4 linked regions of the Homo sapiens genome follow. The protein of the gene in region 2 interacts with the protein of the main gene of each other region in a pairwise test. Each region holds a gene or a part of one and is shown on either strand. Other genes may lie near its edges.

Region 1 (5,221 bases), on a different chromosome or scaffold from region 2:
GAGACCACCTGGGGAGACCAGGACTTCCTTTCCAACCCCTTCCTGGTGCACATCACAGGTAACAGGGCTGTGCCCCGTTCCCAGTAACGGGGCTGTCACTGCCTCACTGGCCTCAGTGGGTGTCGTCCTGTGAGGGCGTGGGAGTCACTGTGTGCGTGTCAACAGGCAACGAGCTCTATGACATCCAGCTGTTGCCCAGGAAGTCGCTGGAGCTGCTGGTAGGGGAGAAGCTGGTCCTGAACTGCACCGTGTGGGCTGAGTTTAACTCAGGTGTCACCTTTGACTGGGACTACCCAGGGAAGCAGGTGAGGTCAGCAGCGCTGCCAGGCTGTCCTGTCCCCAGGAGTCCCTGTGACTGTACAGCACACACTGGGCCTCCGCGTGGAGGATGTGTGGGCCCAGGCCTGCCCCAGGGGCCCCGGTCTGAGTGGCAAGTGTTCCACCCAAAGAAAACTCAGGGCCTGGGTCCAGGGCTTCCGGAGCCACCGCTGGCTGGGCTGGGAGGTGTGCCTTCGGTGGGGTAGCTGTGCAGGAGCCCGCCTGCTGACGCGGGGCTTCCCTGGGTGCGGGCAGGCAGAGCGGGGTAAGTGGGTGCCCGAGCGACGCTCCCAGCAGACCCACACAGAACTCTCCAGCATCCTGACCATCCACAACGTCAGCCAGCACGACCTGGGCTCGTATGTGTGCAAGGCCAACAACGGCATCCAGCGATTTCGGGAGAGCACCGAGGTCATTGTGCATGGTATGGCCTGGGAAACCAGGGTCCTTGTGCCCTGTGGGCCTGGGCCCAGAGCTCACGGTGCCCTTGAGCACTCAGGAGTCCAGCCAGAGGGAAGGGAGGGCCACGAGCAGAGGAGCTGCCCAGCTCCTGCACCGGGCGGCATGGCCAGCCCCAGTCTGCGGATGTCCGGCTGCCGGGGCTGCAGGGGCCGTGGGGGGAGTCCCTGGTCAGTCCACGACGGGTCAGTCCTGGATTTACAGTGACTTCTCCTGTCCGGCAGAAAATCCCTTCATCAGCGTCGAGTGGCTCAAAGGACCCATCCTGGAGGCCACGGCAGGAGACGAGCTGGTGAAGCTGCCCGTGAAGCTGGCAGCGTACCCCCCGCCCGAGTTCCAGTGGTAACAGCCCTGGCTCCCCACCGACCCCGCCGATACCCTTCCAAGTCCAGGGGCAAAACAGACCATAGGGGAAGACGGGCAGCGTCCTCCCCGTCAGGACCTGCACACGGAGACCAGGCATGGCGGGGGCCTCTCTCAGGAGACCCCCCAAGGAACCCGCCCATAATGTGATATTTCAGATGGAAGGTCTGTCTGTTCCTGCCACACTGTGAAAGGTTTCAGTACCAGCCTTCTGTTACATGTGGGTGTGGTGGGCACAGCGAGGGGCTTTTCCTAACTGCCTCCTGACCGCTGGGCCCCTCTCTGCCCTGCAGAATCTCCAGGGCCTGCCCTGCAGCAATGGCTTAGCGTTCCCTATGCCTCCTTTTGCGAGGCTGCCTCTCCCAGGACCCTTCTGTCCAGAAATTTGGAGATGCCACAGGGAATTGACAGATTGCCTGGGCTGGGCCTGTGCTGCACGGCAGCGAGCGAGAGAGCTTCCAGGAGGCCGACAAGCTGCTGGAGTCCCCGCAGATCCCCGATCTGCAAGCGTGTGCTGCGGCCCAGAGAAGGGAGGCCTCAGGGGTGGCCCTGTCTCCGCTGGCTACTCCCTGCAGGCTCTGGGGGGGCATGGCACCCCTCACAAACACGTCCTCAGGCCGTCTGAGTCATCCACATGGCTCACCCACAGTCAGTCACACTTTGAGTCCCCATTGCATAGACGAGGAAGCAGAGGCTAGGAAAGGGTATTCCTAACTGATCGCCAATTCCCCAGGAGGGGTCTCTGCACTGAGCTAGCCCAAGAGCCTCCTTCTCTTCAGCCTGGGCACCTCCCTCCTGGCAGGGCAACTTTTCCTGGAGCTGGGCAAGCAGAGGCCCAGGGTTTCCTCAGCCAGGGCCCCTTGCACTGGCTGGGGGCTCGTCTCTCCTGGGATGGAAGGCCCAGGGTGTCCTGGCCCTGAGCCCAGTGTGACCCTCCCACTGAGGACACAGACTTCGGTGTCCATCCAAGGCACCTGGTCAGTGCCAAGGCCCTTGGGGCAGAGTCCTGAGGGCACTGGCAGATCCTGGAGCCTCACTCACGGGTACAGCTCCTGGAGACCCCTGGGCCCTGTCCCCTGCCCTCCAAGGCCACCATTACTGAGCCTGCTCTGGGCAGGTGGCAGCTCTGTTGCGTCCAGGGTCTACCCAGTCCTCAGGCAGCTGCCTCTCAGAACAGCTTTCCACTGGCTCACTCCTGCCACATCTGGCTCTCTTCCTATGGCAGCCACCCACCCTTCCTGTGGTGCCCACCCTTCCTATGGCACCAGCACATGACGATGGCGAGCACTGACTGGGTGGACGGTCTAGCAAACACACAGATGGGCTGGTCCTTGGCTTCCGAAGCACCCGCAGTGTGTCCAGCACGCTGCTGTCACTGTCCGGGTTAAACCTCACGACAGCTGCAAGGTGCATGTCATCTCCATTGAGGCAATGAAGGAGTCTCAGATCCAGCAAGTGGCAGACTCAGGACCAGAGCCATGCAGACAGCACCACCTCAGTTCCGCCCCTGCCCTGCCCTGCCTCACTCTGCGACCCCAGGCCAGGCACTCCCCCCGGGCCCCTGCTGTGATGTCCAAGTTGAGAATGGGCCCCTGCCTCCCCTTCTCTGTTGGTCTCTGCCCGAGGGCTGTGCCTCTCCCAGGACACAGTGGTGTATCTCTGGCCTGCCACACCCAGCACCAGGGGCAGGCACCTGTCCAAAGGAGGAGCATCTCCATACAGAGTCCAGGCCACAGAGACAGGTGCCTGCAGGGGCCCCAGCACACCCTCTGGGGCTGAGGCATCTGCTTCCTCACGTGTGCAGCAGACATGTAGGCATCTGGGCGCAACTCTGCAGGAGGCAGCACTGCCCTCGTGGGGCTCCCAGCCCAGGGGGACGATGGGCAAACAGACACAGCAAGGCAGGGGCAGGCCACAGCATAGGACAGTCAGGAAGGCTGCACGCCCCCACCCAAATGAAGGAGGCAGGGAACCCTGCAGATTCCTGGCTACAGAAATGAGTGTCCCAGCGAGGCAGGCAGTGAGAGCCAGGCCTGGGGGCGGGGTGTGGGCAGCAAGAAGCCCACATGTCTGCAGGGGCCACGCACATGTCAAGGAGCTAGACTGTGCTCGCAGGGACTGCACCTCCACTCCTTCAGGTGTCTAAGAAAGAGGACGGGGTCTCCAGGCCGTGCCCAGCTGGGTGGAGGAACCAGGTGTGTGGGACCCTCCTGGGCTGGGCTGGGCAAGCCTGGCTGAAGAAGGCTGTCTGCAGCCACAGGCAGGGAGAGAAGGCGGCTGCCCCAGCAGTGACATGGTCATCTCACTACTTGTGGAGAGTTCAGAGGCTTTGGGGCAAGGCAGGAGGTGCTACTGCAGACCTCAGTGACCAATGCCCGAGCCGGCCGCCTGACACGGTTGTCACACCTGGCAGATACGGCCTGGAGACCATCTCCAGGGACTTAGACCATCCCCTCGCAGACCAGTGTTCCCCGTCCTACCCTGCACTCCTGCCAGCCCCTCCCTCCTCCCAACTGTATTTGGGGTGGGGGTGCCAGCATGAGGTTGGGGCTGTGGTGGGATCTGTATGGGCCCTGACCTCCCTTCCCTGGCCAGGTACAAGGATGGAAAGGCACTGTCCGGGCGCCACAGTCCACATGCCCTGGTGCTCAAGGAGGTGACAGAGGCCAGCACAGGCACCTACACCCTCGCCCTGTGGAACTCCGCTGCTGGCCTGAGGCGCAACATCAGCCTGGAGCTGGTGGTGAATGGTAGGTCAGGGACGGGAGAGCGCACGGGTGGGCGGCCTGGCATTGGAGGCCAGCTGACCGGCCATCTGTGTGCCCACAGTGCCCCCCCAGATACATGAGAAGGAGGCCTCCTCCCCCAGCATCTACTCGCGTCACAGCCGCCAGGCCCTCACCTGCACGGCCTACGGGGTGCCCCTGCCTCTCAGCATCCAGTGGCACTGGCGGCCCTGGACACCCTGCAAGATGTTTGCCCAGCGTAGTCTGTGAGTACAGCTCCAGCCTCAGGTCCCCTGCACAGCCACAGCCCCCAGCCTCAGCCATGAGGAACCTCCTTTACAGCACCCCTCACTGCCCAGGTCTTCCCTGTACCCCTTCTCAGGGCCCTGCTCTGAACTTGAACCCTACCTTCAGCTATAGCCAATCCCTGGCCTCACCTCGCCTGAGTGAGGCTCAGAGCCTCCCTTGCACCCATCCTCCATCAGCTGGCCAAGCTGGACACAGGATGGGTCTGGCCCCTGCCCACCTCCCTCAAGAGCGAAGACCTCTGGACACGTAATTGCATCATCTGGAGGGAGAAGGAAGCACATGTCTCTGAGCACCCAGCAGGACACCTCCAGCGGGGTGGGGACCTGGGGGGGTGTCACCTGAGCCCCTGGGATGGTTGCACTGAGCCCCACGGCACACCATGTGTGCTCATGGGCCTCAGCTCATCTGTGCACCACTCACATCCCCTTAGAGACAGGGAAATAGGGTCAGAGAAGGGAGGCGGCTTTCCCAGGGGCACAGCTGTAAGCAACAGGACCCAGCCACCTGCTGAGCCGTGCTCCCCTCCACTGAGCGGGATGCCAGCAGGACATTTAGACAAGCAGGGGGTGAGAGGAGGACGCCCAGGTGGGCAGGGCTTGAAGGCACTAGGGAGCCAGTGAAGGGTGTTGAGAAGTGGAGACATGGCTCAGGTTTGCCTTTTAGCAAGAGATTCCTAGTATCAAACTGGGGCGGGATGGGAGCTGGGAACCTACATGGGAGATGAGGGTAGCCCCACTGGCTGTGGCTCTGGTGTGGTCAGTGGGGGAGGCTCAGTAGGGGTGGCATGAGCCGGCCCCAGATGTCCAAGGTTCATAGGTATTCTTCTAGATCGTGCGGCATGCAGCTCACTGCCAGCACCTCCAAATGTCCTTCCTTCTGGGTGTGCCACCTGTATGCTCTGTGCCAAGTGATGGAGCCCTTCGGGGGGTCCCTGCTCGGCTCCTCCACAGGGGCAGATATGAGCCTCCCTTGGGGCCCTGAGACTACCCCCCCAATCCTGGCAGGAGGCCAAGCTTGCTGGGGATGCACACCCTGCCCAGAGGGAG
Region 2 (3,500 bases):
CTCTCTGTGAGGCAAATGGTATCTCAACAAATACCGACTTTTCAAGGAAGAAAGCTCTCCACTTCTCTCATAAACTTATATACTACCTTAAACAGTATGCAGTATTCGGCATATTTTTTAAAAATGAGTCCAGAGAAATAGAAGGATATAGTTACCTCATAAAGTTAACTGTTAGCAACAGACGTCTTCGTATGTGATTTATAAATTTCTTGGCAAGAACAAGATTTTTAGAAGAGGCTTACTCACACTTAAGACAGAGTGAAAATTACTCTCACAGAATGCAAAGTATAGAATAATAAACATCACCATTACCTTTAAATGCCATACAAACATCCTACATTGCAGGTTGCAGTATCAGGTTTCCAGAATTTCCAATAAGGCAATACCTACACAAATATTGCCAGGCTAAAAATGTAGCAAACTTGCATTCCCAAACTGGGAGAATCTAGCTTATTTGTAATACTTTGTGAAAAGATACTATGAAACTAAAAAGGTAACCGTGGAGTGGAAACTGCTACTAGAAAGTCTGTTATCAGTAGCTACTTCTACTTAAGTCCTCCATTCTCTCCCAGAAGAAACAAACCAAACAAAAAGCATCTATCAATATTAAAACCTGCCTCAATAAAAGCCTAGTGTTCTAACTTAGCACCTCTAGTAAATCTAATATAGCTGCTGCCCCTACGTGCCATGGTAGGCTAATTTGAGGACACCATCTTATAATAAATATACTTCTCCCCTAAATAATTGCGATTTCTCCCTGTACCTTCCTTCCAACTGGAATAAAACATTTTAAGTAGTTATTTTACTTTAGTAAATATTTTTAGAATTCCTATTTGAGAATTTGTTTTCCTTTGACAGAAAACATAATATAGGCTAGGCTAATGAATTTTTTTTTTATTCTACTGGGCTTTCTTCATCTGATTATATAATGCTATGAAAGCTTTTTTTAAAAAAGATTAGTAAATATAAATAAAAATGTTCATCAAGAGAACCTTTTGTAGGTTAGGTAAGAAAATTGTTACCACGTGACCATAAAAACACCCAATAAAGAACAATTTGAACATGGGCCTTCAGTTTTGTAGACAGGAATAATCTTGAACACATATCAACATTGCAACCACTGCAGGTCAAAACATATACATGCAGATATAGACAGGTGTTCATATACATCTAGAAGATCATCAACTCCTCCTTTCTGAAATTTTCATTGCCATAACACTGGCAACTTCTTTACCATCATCATTAGTCCTAGAATGAGTAATATCTACATAATTGGTTGGCAAATTTGATTTATAGCATACTCCTTTGTGGTCTCATTTTCTGAGAGTGAAAGGTGGTTTGGAGAATTAATTTTTTGGCAATCTATAGGCTTTCTTCATCATGAATCAAATCTCACACCTCAGTATACTGACCAGTCAAAAGTCTCTAAAGAGTTTTCTTTACAACTAGAATACTTCCTATTATAAGCCATCAAAGTTGCAAACAAAACAACATTAGTAAAAGAGCTCCCTCCTGTAATTCTAGGAAAAATGAATCACTATTTTGAGAAGGTACAAATATGAATTCAAATATTGTAAAGGAAGAGGACTTCGAAGTTATTTCACAAACTCCATAAATTCCTTTCAAAATATTCTCAACCACATTCTCCTCCTAAAACTTAACTCAGCCCTCCAGTCCTAAATTATCTACACCCAAAACACCTACCTGACACCAGTACAGCTGGCCCTCATATTAAAAATCCATGACCTAAGCTGAATTTTAATAACTTTGAAGAGGAACAGAGAGATACACAGGAGGTTATATCTAATTGTTACATAAAATGACCTCAAAGGATATACTTTAAATTCTTTTTTTTTTGAGGCAGAGTTTCGCTCTTGTCTCCCAGGATGGAGTGCAATGGCGCAATCTCAGCTCACTGCAACCTCCGCCTCCCGGGTTCAAGCGATTCTCCAGCCTTGCCTCCTGAGTAGCTGGGATTACAGGCATGCACCAACATGCCCAGCTAATTCTGGGATATACTTTAAATTCTATCCAAAGCTAACAATGGGTACATCAGACTCAACTTGGCACCATCAAAACAAAGTTAAAAGGTTAAAATGGGAAGGACGATAAAGAGAATAAAGAGGAAATGAAGCTTTCCCCTTGATATTTTAGCTCATTCTATATTGTAATCTTACTATTTGCTTCCTTTGAAAGAATACTAAGGAGTTAGTGTTGGGTGATAGCTTTGGGTGATAAACTGAACTAGAATGGTTTTCATAATCTCTAACACAGTGTGCAACACGGATACTAAAATGTGTGAAAAACTGTCTTCCACAATATGGTTTTCTCTTGGTCCACTTTACACAAAGTTAAATAGTGACCAAAAATAAAAGCATCTATAGTTTTAGAAGAAAATAGCACGTCAAATTTTTGGAGTTAAATGTGATTGTCGCCACCATGCCCGGCTAAGATGAGACTATGCATGCACCTGTGTGTGTGTGTACATACACATCCATGTACATACACACACCTTGGTTTAAAAATCACTTGAGTAGGCTGGATACAGTGGCTCACAACTGTAATCGCAGCACTCTGGGAGGCCGAGGCGGGTGGATCACCTGAGGTCAGGAGTTCAAGACCAGCCTGGCCAACATGGTGAAACCCCATCTCTACTAAAAATACAAAAATTAGCCGGGCATGGTGACAGGTGCCTGTAATCCCAGCTACTCTGGGGCTGAGACAGAAGAATTGCTTGAACCCAGGAGGCAGAGGTTGCAGTGAGCCAAGATTGTGCCACCGCACTCTAGCCTGGGCAACAAGAGCAAAACTCCATCTTAAAAAAAAAAAATTACTTGAGGAGTTGTGCTATATTTGGTAGAGATGAAGGAGAAATCAAGGGTAAAAGGCTGCAAGGGAAGACTAAGCAACAACGGACATATGGCCATATTTATTTATTTATTTTTGGCCATGTTTATCTTTGTAGTTAATCTTTAAGGCACAAAATAAATGTAAAAGCCAGATTAGGAAAGGGAGGGGGCCATTGCAGATCTTTTTTCACCTAATTAACAACTCAGGAGACCAGACAAAAGAAACAACAAATAGATCCTTTCCTGTGTTCGAATTAACCTATTTTAAACTATTTAGCCATTTTGTTTTTTATTTATTTCTTTGGGTTTTGTTTTGATTCTGTTTGACCCACTTAACTAAAATGATACTATAGATCCTTCAAAAGCAGAATCATGCCAGTTACACATCTCAAATCCTTTGATCTACTTACTTCGTACTTTAAGAGGTAAATTTGAGAATGAAAATGGGAGACTCCAATGCAATAACACCTACATAAGGAAAAACACACATAAACACCCACACATATTCCCCAGCCTCAAAACTAAAGCAAGGTACACATTTACATTTCCAAACCCCAAAGCCTAAACTGTCCAGGAAAAGATTCTAGCTTTGTGGGCTGAGTTTATTTTGCTTCTGGTTATAAACAAATGTAGTGTATACACACATCTGTC
Region 3 (5,221 bases), on a different chromosome or scaffold from region 2:
GGTCTGCGCTAGGGAGAGTGCCAAGTCCTGGGCCTTCTCCCTCCACTCAATCTCCCTGGCTTCTGTCTGTCTCAGGGCTGCCTGTAGCCGCTCCAGCTCCCGCTGCAGCCTGGGCTCTAAAGAATCAAGTTTTAGAGATTGTTCCTCCATTGGGGAGGTTTTGTGGCTGTGGGGTAAGGCTTCCAGGTTGTTCCTTTGCTGGGTCTCCCTCAGCTCCAGAATCTCCTGTTCCTTTTGGGCTAGAGTCAGCTGTAGCTCCCTTACACTCTGATGAAGGCCCCTTATCTCCTCCTCTTCTCTCTCTTGCCCCAGATTCTGCTTCTCTTGGATCATATTCTCTTGGACCCTCTGGGCCAGAGACTTCTCCAGCAGCTGCTCCCGTTCCTGCTGATGTCTCAGCTCTTCATCCCTCTGGGCAAGTGCCTGCTGCAGCTGCTGCACATCCTCCTGGTATCGGAGATCCTGGTCCTGGATCTCACCTTCTTGTATCCTCAGAGCCTCCTCCAGCTGCCGACTGTGTGCCTGGCAGGCATCCAGGGAGGCTTGCAGGGTTGCAGTGCTGGCCTCCAGACTGCGGCTCAATTCTGCCTGCTCGAGGAGATGCTGCTCTTTCCCCTGCAGGGCAGCATGAGCCTTGCCAAGGGCCTCCTGCAGAGCCTCAGCCCGGGCCCGGGCAGCCTCCTCCTGATGCCGGGAGGACTGACTTTCTGCCCGCAGAGCTTCCAGCTCCTGGTCCCGTTCCTTGAGCACTGCCTGGGCCTGCAGCCAGCTGTCCTGCAGGGCCCTGGTCTCCACCTCATGCTCCTGTGCCTGCTCAGCACACTGCTGCTGGAGGGCCAACAGAGCTTTCTCCTGTTCCCGAGACTCAGCCCTTAGGTCTCCCAGCACCTCCTCCAGGGCCTGGACCCGCCGTCCCTCCACTGCCAGCTCTTCCTCCAGCCTTCGTGCCTGTTCCTTGTGGTCCTGAAGCTCTCCATGACGCTCCTTCAGTGTCATATGGGCTTGCTCCAGAGCTCCCTGGAGGGCGTCTGCCTTTTCCTTCACCCTCTCCTCCTGTCCCTGGGCCTGCTGCTGTTCTTGCTGCAGAGCCTCCAGTTCCTGGTCCCTCTGGGCTAGGGCTCTCTGGGCCTCATCCAGTTGACTCTGAAGTGACTGCTCCTTCAGCTCCCCTTGTTCCCTGGCTTCCTGCAGTTGCTGCTGCAGGACCACTATTTCCTGCTCTCGCTGGGACAGGAGGAGGCTGGTCTCACCTACCTTCCTGTGCAGGCCCTGGAGCTGCTGCTCCAGCTGGTCTTTGAGCTCCTGGAGTTCATGGATATGCTCCTGCTGACATTCCACCTCCTTCTCCTTATCACGCAGGATCAGCTTCATGTGCTCTAGGCTCCCGCGCTGTGCTTTACTTGGGCCCTTCCCTTCCTCTGCCCGTTCCTGCATCAGCTGCCTCTGAGTGGTCAGCTCCCGGCCTCGCTCTCTCAAGGACAGCTTGATCTGTTCCAGGTCCTCCTCCAGGATCTTGGTCTGCCGGGTCCTCTGATCCTCGAGAACCTGAATCCTCTCCTTCTGCAGCATCAGCTCCTGGTCTCTCCTCTCGAGATCCTGAGTCAGATGCTCTTTCTGCCTCTGCAGCTCCTCGATCTGTTCTCGCTGAGACTTCACCTCCTGGTCCCTCTCCTGCAGCTCTCTTGCCAGAACGGTGCTGTGGCTCTCCAGGTCATGGATCTGGCTGCTTTGTGCCTGCAGCTCCTGGCTCCTTTCTTCTAGGTCCAGCGTAAGGTGGGTCAAAGCCACTCTCTGGGTTTCCCTCTGGCCCTCCAGCTCCTTGATCAGTTTTTGCTGGCACTCCATCTTGTGATGGTTTTCCTCCAGTTCCAGGGCCAGGCATTCCAGAGTAACCAACTGCTTTTTCAGGTCCTGAACCTGTCCTCTCTGGGACTCAATCATTTGGTCTTTCTTCTCAAGTTCTAGAAGCTGATGCTCCAAGACGTTCCTCTGAGTCTCCCGATCCTTCTCGAGCTCTCTGATCTGCTCCCTCTGCACAGTCAGCTTCTGCTCTCGCTCCTGGACGGCCATGGGCAGATGCTCTAAAACAGACCTACACTTCTCTAGCTCCTGAATCTGTTCTTGCTGCAGATCTACCTCTTGGTTCCTCTTCTTCAGGTCCAGAGACAGCAATTCCAAAGCAGCCTTCTGCATTTCCCGTTGCTTCTCCAGTTCCTGGATTTGTCCCCGCAGAGTCTCCACCTCCTCTTCTCTTTCAGCTAGGGTCTGGGTCAGGAGGGCCAAATTCTCTTGCAGAGCCTTCCCTTGGGCCACCTTCAGTTCGCCCTGCTCTTGCAGAGCCTGGGCTCTCTCACGCTCACTCTCTACTTCCTCATTTTTCAGCTTCAGTGCTGAGCGAGCCGTTCTCAGGTCTTCTTCCAGGATGCCAGCAGCACTTGCCTGAGCCCTGGCTTCTACGACAGCTGCTTGCAGGTGTTCCACCTGGGCTGTCAGGTTCTCCTTGGCTGCCTGAAGTAACTCTCGCTCACCCTAGAAGACAAGATGAAAAGCCACTTTAGACTACACTTCCCTGCTACTGTCACCCCAACACCGACCCTTCTCTTTCTTATTTTGTGGCACTAGCAGTGATAAGGACTTGGGCAAAAAAAAGTGGTGGTATATTCCACTTAAGCTGATACTGTAAAAGGGCATCCCTACCACCTTCCAGGACTCTGCTATGCCCAGGGGAGACGCTGGTCCTTCAGGACAAGGGGCAAAAATATCAACCTCAATTCAGAAAAAGCAATTGAAGGAGGATTCATTGGAACCTGAATAATGGCCCCCAGGGACATGGAGACAGCCAGAGGAACTGACAGACTTGCTGAAGGAAGTGGGACACAGGACCACAGGCCAAGGTGGGCCCAAGGGACTACTCCTGAGGCAAACCCCTCCCTGAAACCAGTACCACTTTACCTGGGCTTCCATTCGCTGTAGCTCTGCTCTCCGCAGGCGACTCTGTAAGGATGCCATAGTTTCATGTAGTTCCATCAGCTCAGATTCTAGGGAGTTCTGCTTTCCTTCCCACTTAGATTTCTCTTTGAGAAGAGAGGAGAGGAGAGGAGAGGTAGTGGAGTAAGACCCATGTTTGGGATATAGAGGGATATAGAGGCAGATGGAGGATGGGGAACAGATTCAAAGGGAAGGAAGGCCAAGAAGGAGAAAATTATATCCAGTGTCCTAGAGATATCAAGGACATCAAGAGCTGGCAGATGCCAGCTGCTTCTATTTGCCTGGCAGCACTCCCTGCTGCTGCCAGCCCCAGCACTGCCTGGTAATCATCCCAATATGTCCTCATCCTCATCACAGAGAGCCTTGGCCCTCAATTCCAGACAGGGTTGAGCCAGATGACACTGGAGGTTCCTTCTAGCCCCCAGTCCTATAATTGTGCAGGAGCTCCTAGAGACCCGGGTGGCTCTGCTGGTTGCCCACCATTTCTGCAACAGGCGTTGGAATCCCATTATTTTTGTGGCTCTCAGGGAACCCTCAAACGGCCTCAAAAAAGGCCCAGACCCAAGGTGTCCTCTTCTCTTTTTTTCTTTTTTTGAGATGGAGTCTTGCTCTGTCACCCAGGCTGGAATGCAGTGGCACAATCTCGGCTCACTGCAACCTCCACCTCCCGGGTTCAAGCGATTCCCCTGCCTCAGCCTCCCGAGTAGTTGGGATTACAGGTGCCCACCACCACACCCGGCTAACTCTTCTCTTTTACAGTAGAAACTTGAGCTTCAAGACCCTTCCTCTCCTGTCCTTTGTAAGGAGTCATGACACTTTCTAGTCCTTGGCTGGCACATGGATATATCCTCCCCAGATCCCCTCTCTTTGCTTTCTCCCAAATAAGCTCATAATCCCTCAGCTACCAAAGGCTAACTTGGAGGACACAGTTGAAGATGATAAAAATAAGTAACATGGATGACAAAAGATGCAGTTTTATAATGTTCTTACAGTCCTGGCCCTGGGTCTCCAATTTTTTTAATTTTTAAATCTACAGAGACAGAAAATGGAAGCCCAGCCATTTCCTTCTTTCAGTTCATCAAATCTGTTCCTCCTAATCTCTTCTTCCAGGATGGGCCTCAAAGGCCAAGCAAAGCTGAAAAAATAGTTCAAGGTGGTCAGCACCCCTTTGGAAGTGCATCTAGATCTCACCTCACATTTCTGGGTAAATAATGCAGTGCAGCTGGGCGCAGTGGCTCACGCCTGTAATCCTAGCACTTTGGGAGGTCGAGGCAGGCGGATCACTTGAGGCCAGGAGTTCAAGCACTCCCTGCTGCTGCCAGCCCCAGCGCTGCCTGGTAATCATCCCAATATGTCCTCATCCTCATCACAGAGAGCCTTGGCCCTCAATTCCAGACAGGGTTGAGCCAGATGACACTGGAGGTCCCTTCTAGCCCCCAATCCTATAATTGTGCAGGAGCTCCTAGAGACCCCGGTGGCTCCGCTGGTTGGTGAACATGGTGAAACCCCGTCTTTATTAAAAATCCAAAAAAATTAGCCAGGCGTGGTGGCGCATGCCTATAATCCTAGCTGCTCGGAAGACATAGGTTGCAGCGAGCCGAAGTCGTGACATTGTACTCAAACCTGAGTGACAGAGTGAGATGTCGTCTCAAAAATAAAATAAAATAAACAGAGTGGCTGCTAGGCCTGTGCCTGCCACTTCTGGGCTCCCCACCTATCCCTTCTCCCTCTCAATCTCCCTGCCTGTCTTGAGCTTCTCACCTTCCTGATTCTGGGAGAGCTGTCTCTGCAGATCCTGCAACTCTGTGTGGACCTGGCTCTTCTCAGCCTCAGTATCAGTTAGACGCTCTTCCAGTTTCTGGACCTGATCCCTCAGAACATCCTGGGAAAGGAAGGGCATGGCTAAACGTGAGTTCCTCATCTTCCACAAAACAATGCAGGGCTCAAGCTCTCTCCTCATTCTCAGCTTCTGTGGTGGGCCGCCATTGTGGACCTACTCCCAGATTGCCGGGTTACTTCCTTTAAACACATGTGTATTTAGCTTCCTGAAGTGATGACAGGCTCTGCTCCACTTGGATGGAGTGTGAGAATCCATCCCCTTCTGACCTATCTATGTCTTTTGAAACAGAGCTCCTGCTCAAAGTTAGCCCAGGGGTCACCACTTCCCTCTCAACACTCCTACTTCAAAGCTCAGCCCAAAGGTCATCTCTTCTTTCCTTCTGACCCTTCCCAA
Region 4 (5,221 bases), on a different chromosome or scaffold from region 2:
GCTGGATGGCCACTCGGAAGACACCCCGTACCTCCTCCCAGGCCATGTCACCACTGCTCTCGCCCTGGCGGGTAGCAACAAATGGGATATCATCTTCTGTGGTCTCGGAGTCATCATGCTGGTAGACCAGCCGGCCACGCAACAGGTCTTCATTGGTGAAGGATGTCACCATAGTGGTCTTGTCCTGTGTCCCACGCCAAGCCAACCTCCCATGGCGGGGCCGCTCCATGACCTCATAGAGGTAGCTGGCACTGTTGAGACTCTTGACAAAGAGGTGGTCAGCAGAGAGGACACCCTCACCACCCTCAGGCACCACGAGGAGGACATTGGTGAGGACAGGCGCATCTGGGTCACCACCAATGTGGATGGGGAAGGTATAGAGTGGGGAGAAATATGGTGGAGCTGTGACACGGAAACGGAAGGTGTCCTCGACTGCCTCTGAGGCACGTGCTGTGGCCCCATAGGTCACCCGGCCAGCCTGTATGTCATCCTGGGTGAAGCCCTGGCCATCTGACAGCCTTGTGCCCTGTAGTTGAAGGTTGCCTTTCCTGGGAGCCTGAACCACCTCATAATGGAAGGTTGGGGGGCTTGGGCCTGCCTCCTCCAGGGTGGCCTCCAGGTGGGCTGTGGTGAGGGTCTCCTGCTGGGTGTTCTGAGTGTGCAGTGGCTCCAGCCGCAGCATCCACACAGTGGCTCTCTGGATGGTCACTGGGAAGGACAGATTGCTCAGGATCTCCTGGCCCACCTGCACCTCCAGGGCCAGGTTCTCCACGGTGTCGTAAGCGTGGTGCTGTGGGTCAGTGCTCAGGTACCTCACGCGGCCCTGCTCCACATCCCGCTGGTGGAACGCCTGTGTGGCCCACCACTCAGCACCCTCCACCCCACCTGCCCCCTGCTTCTGCAGCTCCCCAAACTGCAGGGCCCCAGTGACGCGGAACAGCACGCTCACATCCTGCCCCACGGCATTGGTCTCCACCGACAGGTTGGCGGGCAAGATGGGCATGGCAGAGCCTTGGGCCAGTCGCAACCCTGTGCTGCGGTGGATCTGTATGGCCGGCCGGATGGCCACCACCTTCAGCGTGGCCGGGGGGCTGGCCTGCAGTCCATCGCTGACCCGGAACGTCAAGTCCTGTGCAGGACCACCGCGGTGGACATAGACTAGGCTGCCGGCCTCCAACTCCCGGCAGGAGAACTCGGTCGCCGGCTCCCCAGGCTGGTCTCGGCGCTCCACGGGGAGGCCAGAGGAGGTGCCAAGGACCTGGAAGGTGAGGCCCTCACAGGCAGAGTCCGGGTCATAGGCCTGGAAAACCTCAGGCCCCAGCGGCTTCTGCGTGTGTTCCAGGATCACCATGAGGCTGCCATGTGGGAAGATGATGTGGGGTGGGTCATTGACAGGGTTGACCTGGATGGGCAGGAGGTATGTTTGGCCCCTCCGAAGGCATGAGGGCATGGGCACCCGAGCCGTCACCGACACCTCCAGCACCAGCTGGTCGGAGGTGTCCTCAGAGCCATCGTGGATGAAGCGGGCCTTGCGGTTCACCACGTCCAGGAGGGTGAACATTTTTCGTGCCTGGGCTCCCGGGATGTCCAGCTCGAGCTCGCCATGGCGTGCCCCTCGGGTCACGCTGAACAGCACCTGGGATTTGCGCAGCTCAGCCTCCATCAGGTCCAGCGTGGGCTGCACATGCCTCCACTCAAGCCAGGCTGTGCCCCCCTCGGCCACCACCAGTGGGCTGATAGTCAGCAGCTGGGTGAAATTGGCAAAGACAGGAGGCAGCCCTGGCTCAGGCACGCATGGCTCAGGCAGCTCCATGGCTGGCCAAGCCTCAGGGGCCAGGGTGGAGAAAGCTTCATAATGTCCATAGGCATCGTCCTCATACTCCTCCTCCTCCAGCCTGCAGCCGGCTGCCATGTTGCGCGTCAGCAAAGCTTCCCGCAGCCCCCGCCTCTGGCCATTGACACTGAGGTCTTCCATGCAGCCCAGCAGGGAGGCATTGGTGGCCTCTGGTGTCAGGCCCAGGCGGTGTTCCTGGAGGTGACGAGAGGCCTCTGCATCCAGCCCCCCGAGAAGGAGACTGCCCCGTGGCTCCAGGTAGCTGAGGACTCCTCGGTTCGAAGTATGCGTAGGGTACTGGTCCACGGAGATTTCCAGCCGGTGAGCATTGATGTGGACACTGACCTCATGGGGCTGCCCATCGGCCACAGGCACACTGTTGTGGAGCAATACGGTACCCTGGCCCTTCTCCACCACGGCCCGCAGGTGGCCCTCAAATATGTCCACATAGATGAAGTCCCCACGCCGGCCCCCTGCCTGGAAGGCCAAGGGTGCCTGCCGGCTCTGTGTGGTGAGTGTAAACTCTAGGGTTCCTTCGTCCTGAGTGCCCCAGGCAGGGAAGGCAGCCAGAGAGTGGGGCCCAGAGAAGCCCAGGGCCACATCATCACTGGCAGAAAACTCTTCAGCACAGCCCTCATGCACATCGGGGGTCAGAGGCCGGAGGAGGCTGCGGCCATTGAGGGTGGCTGCATGGAGGCAACCCCTCAGGGGTCGGCTGGTTCCCCTCAGGTAGGGCAGGCCAAGGGTCCCAGTGCCCCCAACAAAGAGCCCATAGGGGACCTCTAGGGGGGCTCCTGGGACTGCTGAGGAGGCGTTCAGAAACCCATCGACTGACAACGTGGCCCAGCCCTCTACGACAGTCAGCACCACAGTGTGGGGGATGGAGTCACTCAGCAGCGTCTCTGCTGGAGTCTGCAGCCTCAGCTCCTCCTGGCCCAGAACAAGTCTGACCTGAAGAGAGATGGGGAGTGGGAGATAGTGGACAGCACTTTGGATCCATCATTTCCCTTATAAAAGCATAGAGCCGGGCGTGATTGCAGTGGTGGCTCATGCCTGTAATCCTAGCACTTTGGGAGGCCAAGGCAGGCGGATCACCTGAGGTTAGGAGTTTGAGACCAGCCTGGCCAACATGGAGAAACCCTGTCTCTACTAAAAACACAAAATTAGCTGGGCATGGTGGCGCATGCCTGTAATCCCAGCTACTTTGGAGGCTGTGGCAGGAGAATTGCTTGAACTCGGGAGGTGGAGGTTGCAGTGAGCTGAGATCATGCCATTGCACTCCAGCCTGGGCAGCAAGAGCGAAACTCTGTCTCAAAAAACAAACAAAAAAAAAGCATAGTGAGTTCCCCACACTTGGGGCCCCAGAGTGGAAAACCTAGGACAAGAGCCTCTGGTGCCACTCCTCTTGCCGTCCTGCCATCTCTTTATTCATCCTCCAAACACTCACCAAAGGAAACTCTGGGCCAGGGCTGGATGGGCTCTGGGGACCCTGATATGAATCAGATGTGGTCCTCGCCCACAAGGAACTGACATACAGCAAGATGCTCTCCTAGAAATCCAACCTGTGTTTTTAAATTCTTCCCCTCTTTCCTTGAGTGAGAGGTGCCAGAAATATTGTCTTGGAATCTGGATTTCAACTTTGGAATAATGGGTAACTGGGAATCCCTTGATCAGTCCCCTTCAACAGAGCAAAGTTTCTTGGGGTCATTGAAGGCAGCCAGGCTCACTGTTCAGGAATAGGCTAATTTTTAAATTAAAATTTAAATACTCTGTGTTCTGAAAAAAAGCTCCCTGACCTGGGGTGGAAGGAGATCTTGGGGAGAGATGAAGGACATAGTTCTGTCTCCATGACATTGACAGCAGAAATGGCTCTGGTACGGTGCTCCCAGATGGTAGAATGGGAGGTGGCAGAGTATGGTAACTGCAGAACCAGGGCACTAAGAACTATAATTTTGGAGTCCTGGTATGGAGCATCTCTGTAGGGGTGTGGCATCATTGTACCTACAGAACTGGACAGCCATCAGCACCAGCCTGCACCACGCTGGTGTTTAACAGTGAAAGCAGCAGACTGACCAAGCCCTAGTCCTCTCCCCATGGGGTGTGGAAGGAGATGGCTGCCCCAAATTTGTTTTTTTTTGAGACGGAGTTTGGTTCTTGTTGCCCAGGCTGAAGTGCAATGGTGCGGTCTCGGCTCACTGCAACCTCCTTCTCCTGGGTTCAAGTGATTCTCTTGCCTCAGCCTCCTGAGTAGCTGGGATTACAGGCATGTGTCACCATGCCCGGCTAATTTTTTTGTATTTTTATTAGAGACACGGTTTCACCATGTTGGCCAGGCTGGTCTCGAACTCCTGACCTCAGGTGATCCACCCGCCTCAGCCTCCCAAAGTGCTGGGATTACAGGCATGAGCCACCGCGTCCGGTTATTTTTTTCTTTTAAAAATAGAGATGGGGACTCATTGTGTGGCTTAGGCCAGACTTGAACTCCTAGGCTCGAGTGATCTTCTCACCTTGGCCTCCCAAAGTGGTGGGATTATAGGCATGAGCCACTGCACCCAGCCTGGCACAAATTCGGAATAAGACCCTGGGTTCTTAAACTCTTCATGGTTTAGGGGAAGACTCAAAAAAGCCACAAGACTCCTTGCTAACAAAGCTTGTGGTGTCTTGAAGGATGAAATGGAAAAATGAGGAAGCTGAGGCAGTACTGGTGCTGTTACTGTCGTGGACAGACCATGGTGCTGCAGAGAAATTGGTGCAGTGCCACCGGGATGCACAGGGGTCATGGGGGCTCAGGAGGGGGCCTAGCCCAGGAGGAGGGGATGCCCACACTGAGACTTCAAGGAGAGGCTGGAGTTAGGCATGTGCAGGGAACGGGAGAGGCGCACACCTGGCAGAAGGAGTGTGCATCAAGAGCCTGGCAGCAAGCGACTGTAAGATGGCCAGGAACTGAAAGCAGTTCAGGGCTGTCAGAGCACAAAGGGCCAGCGAGGGGTTGTGGCGGGAAACATGGTTGGAGGGAGCCAGTGGGCAGAGCCAGTTCATGAAGGATTTACCATTTCTGGGCTGCTGCTGCCCATCCCACAGTGGAGAACTTAAGACCCCAAGATAAAAGTGACTTACACAAGGTCACACAGCCAGCTGGGGTTCACTCAAAGCTAGAGAAGGAATCCCACCCCGAATCCCGCCCAGATCTCAGGGGGACGTCACTCACCTGCAGGCGTCCAGAGTAGAGCTGCAGCAGGAGGTGGTCAGCTGGGCCTGCTGCCAGGAGAAGGAGGGCTTCGGGCTGGGACGTGGAGAACTGCAGCTGCAGGTCTATGTCGGTCAGAGCCGTGGCCACAGGCACCTCCAGGTGGTTCTCACCGAAGAAGGAAGCTGTGTGAGAGAGGG

Evidence for each region. Proteins that work in one complex are often made in the same cells at the same time.
Region 1: the proteins of ATF7IP (region 2) and FLT4 interact in a two-hybrid assay, tested with the Homo sapiens proteins (one large-scale study listed by IntAct).
Region 3: the proteins of ATF7IP (region 2) and CEP250 interact in a two-hybrid assay, tested with the Homo sapiens proteins (one large-scale study listed by IntAct).
Region 4: the proteins of ATF7IP (region 2) and CSPG4 interact in a two-hybrid assay, tested with the Homo sapiens proteins (one large-scale study listed by IntAct).

What each region holds. Positions count from the first base shown.
Region 1 is NC_000005.10:180,624,780-180,630,000, reverse strand, and holds part of FLT4 (vascular endothelial growth factor receptor 3 isoform 1 precursor), read left to right. Parts: coding exon 1-58; intron 59-165; coding exon 166-305; intron 306-573; coding exon 574-742; intron 743-1,001; coding exon 1,002-1,119; intron 1,120-3,735; coding exon 3,736-3,890; intron 3,891-3,969; coding exon 3,970-4,132; intron 4,133-5,221. UniProt on the Homo sapiens protein: Tyrosine-protein kinase that acts as a cell-surface receptor for VEGFC and VEGFD, and plays an essential role in adult lymphangiogenesis and in the development of the vascular network and the cardiovascular system during embryonic development.
Region 2 is NC_000012.12:14,498,182-14,501,681, reverse strand, and holds part of ATF7IP (activating transcription factor 7-interacting protein 1), read right to left. Parts: 3' UTR 1-3,500. UniProt on the Homo sapiens protein: Recruiter that couples transcriptional factors to general transcription apparatus and thereby modulates transcription regulation and chromatin formation. Can both act as an activator or a repressor depending on the context.
Region 3 is NC_000020.11:35,499,698-35,504,918, reverse strand, and holds part of CEP250 (centrosome-associated protein CEP250), read right to left. Parts: intron 4,871-5,221; coding exon 4,750-4,870; intron 3,075-4,749; coding exon 2,953-3,074; intron 2,530-2,952; coding exon 1-2,529. UniProt on the Homo sapiens protein: Plays an important role in centrosome cohesion during interphase. Recruits CCDC102B to the proximal ends of centrioles. Maintains centrosome cohesion by forming intercentriolar linkages.
Region 4 is NC_000015.10:75,688,028-75,693,248, forward strand, and holds part of CSPG4 (chondroitin sulfate proteoglycan 4 precursor), read right to left. Parts: intron 5,207-5,221; coding exon 5,043-5,206; intron 2,786-5,042; coding exon 1-2,785. UniProt on the Homo sapiens protein: Proteoglycan playing a role in cell proliferation and migration which stimulates endothelial cells motility during microvascular morphogenesis. May also inhibit neurite outgrowth and growth cone collapse during axon regeneration.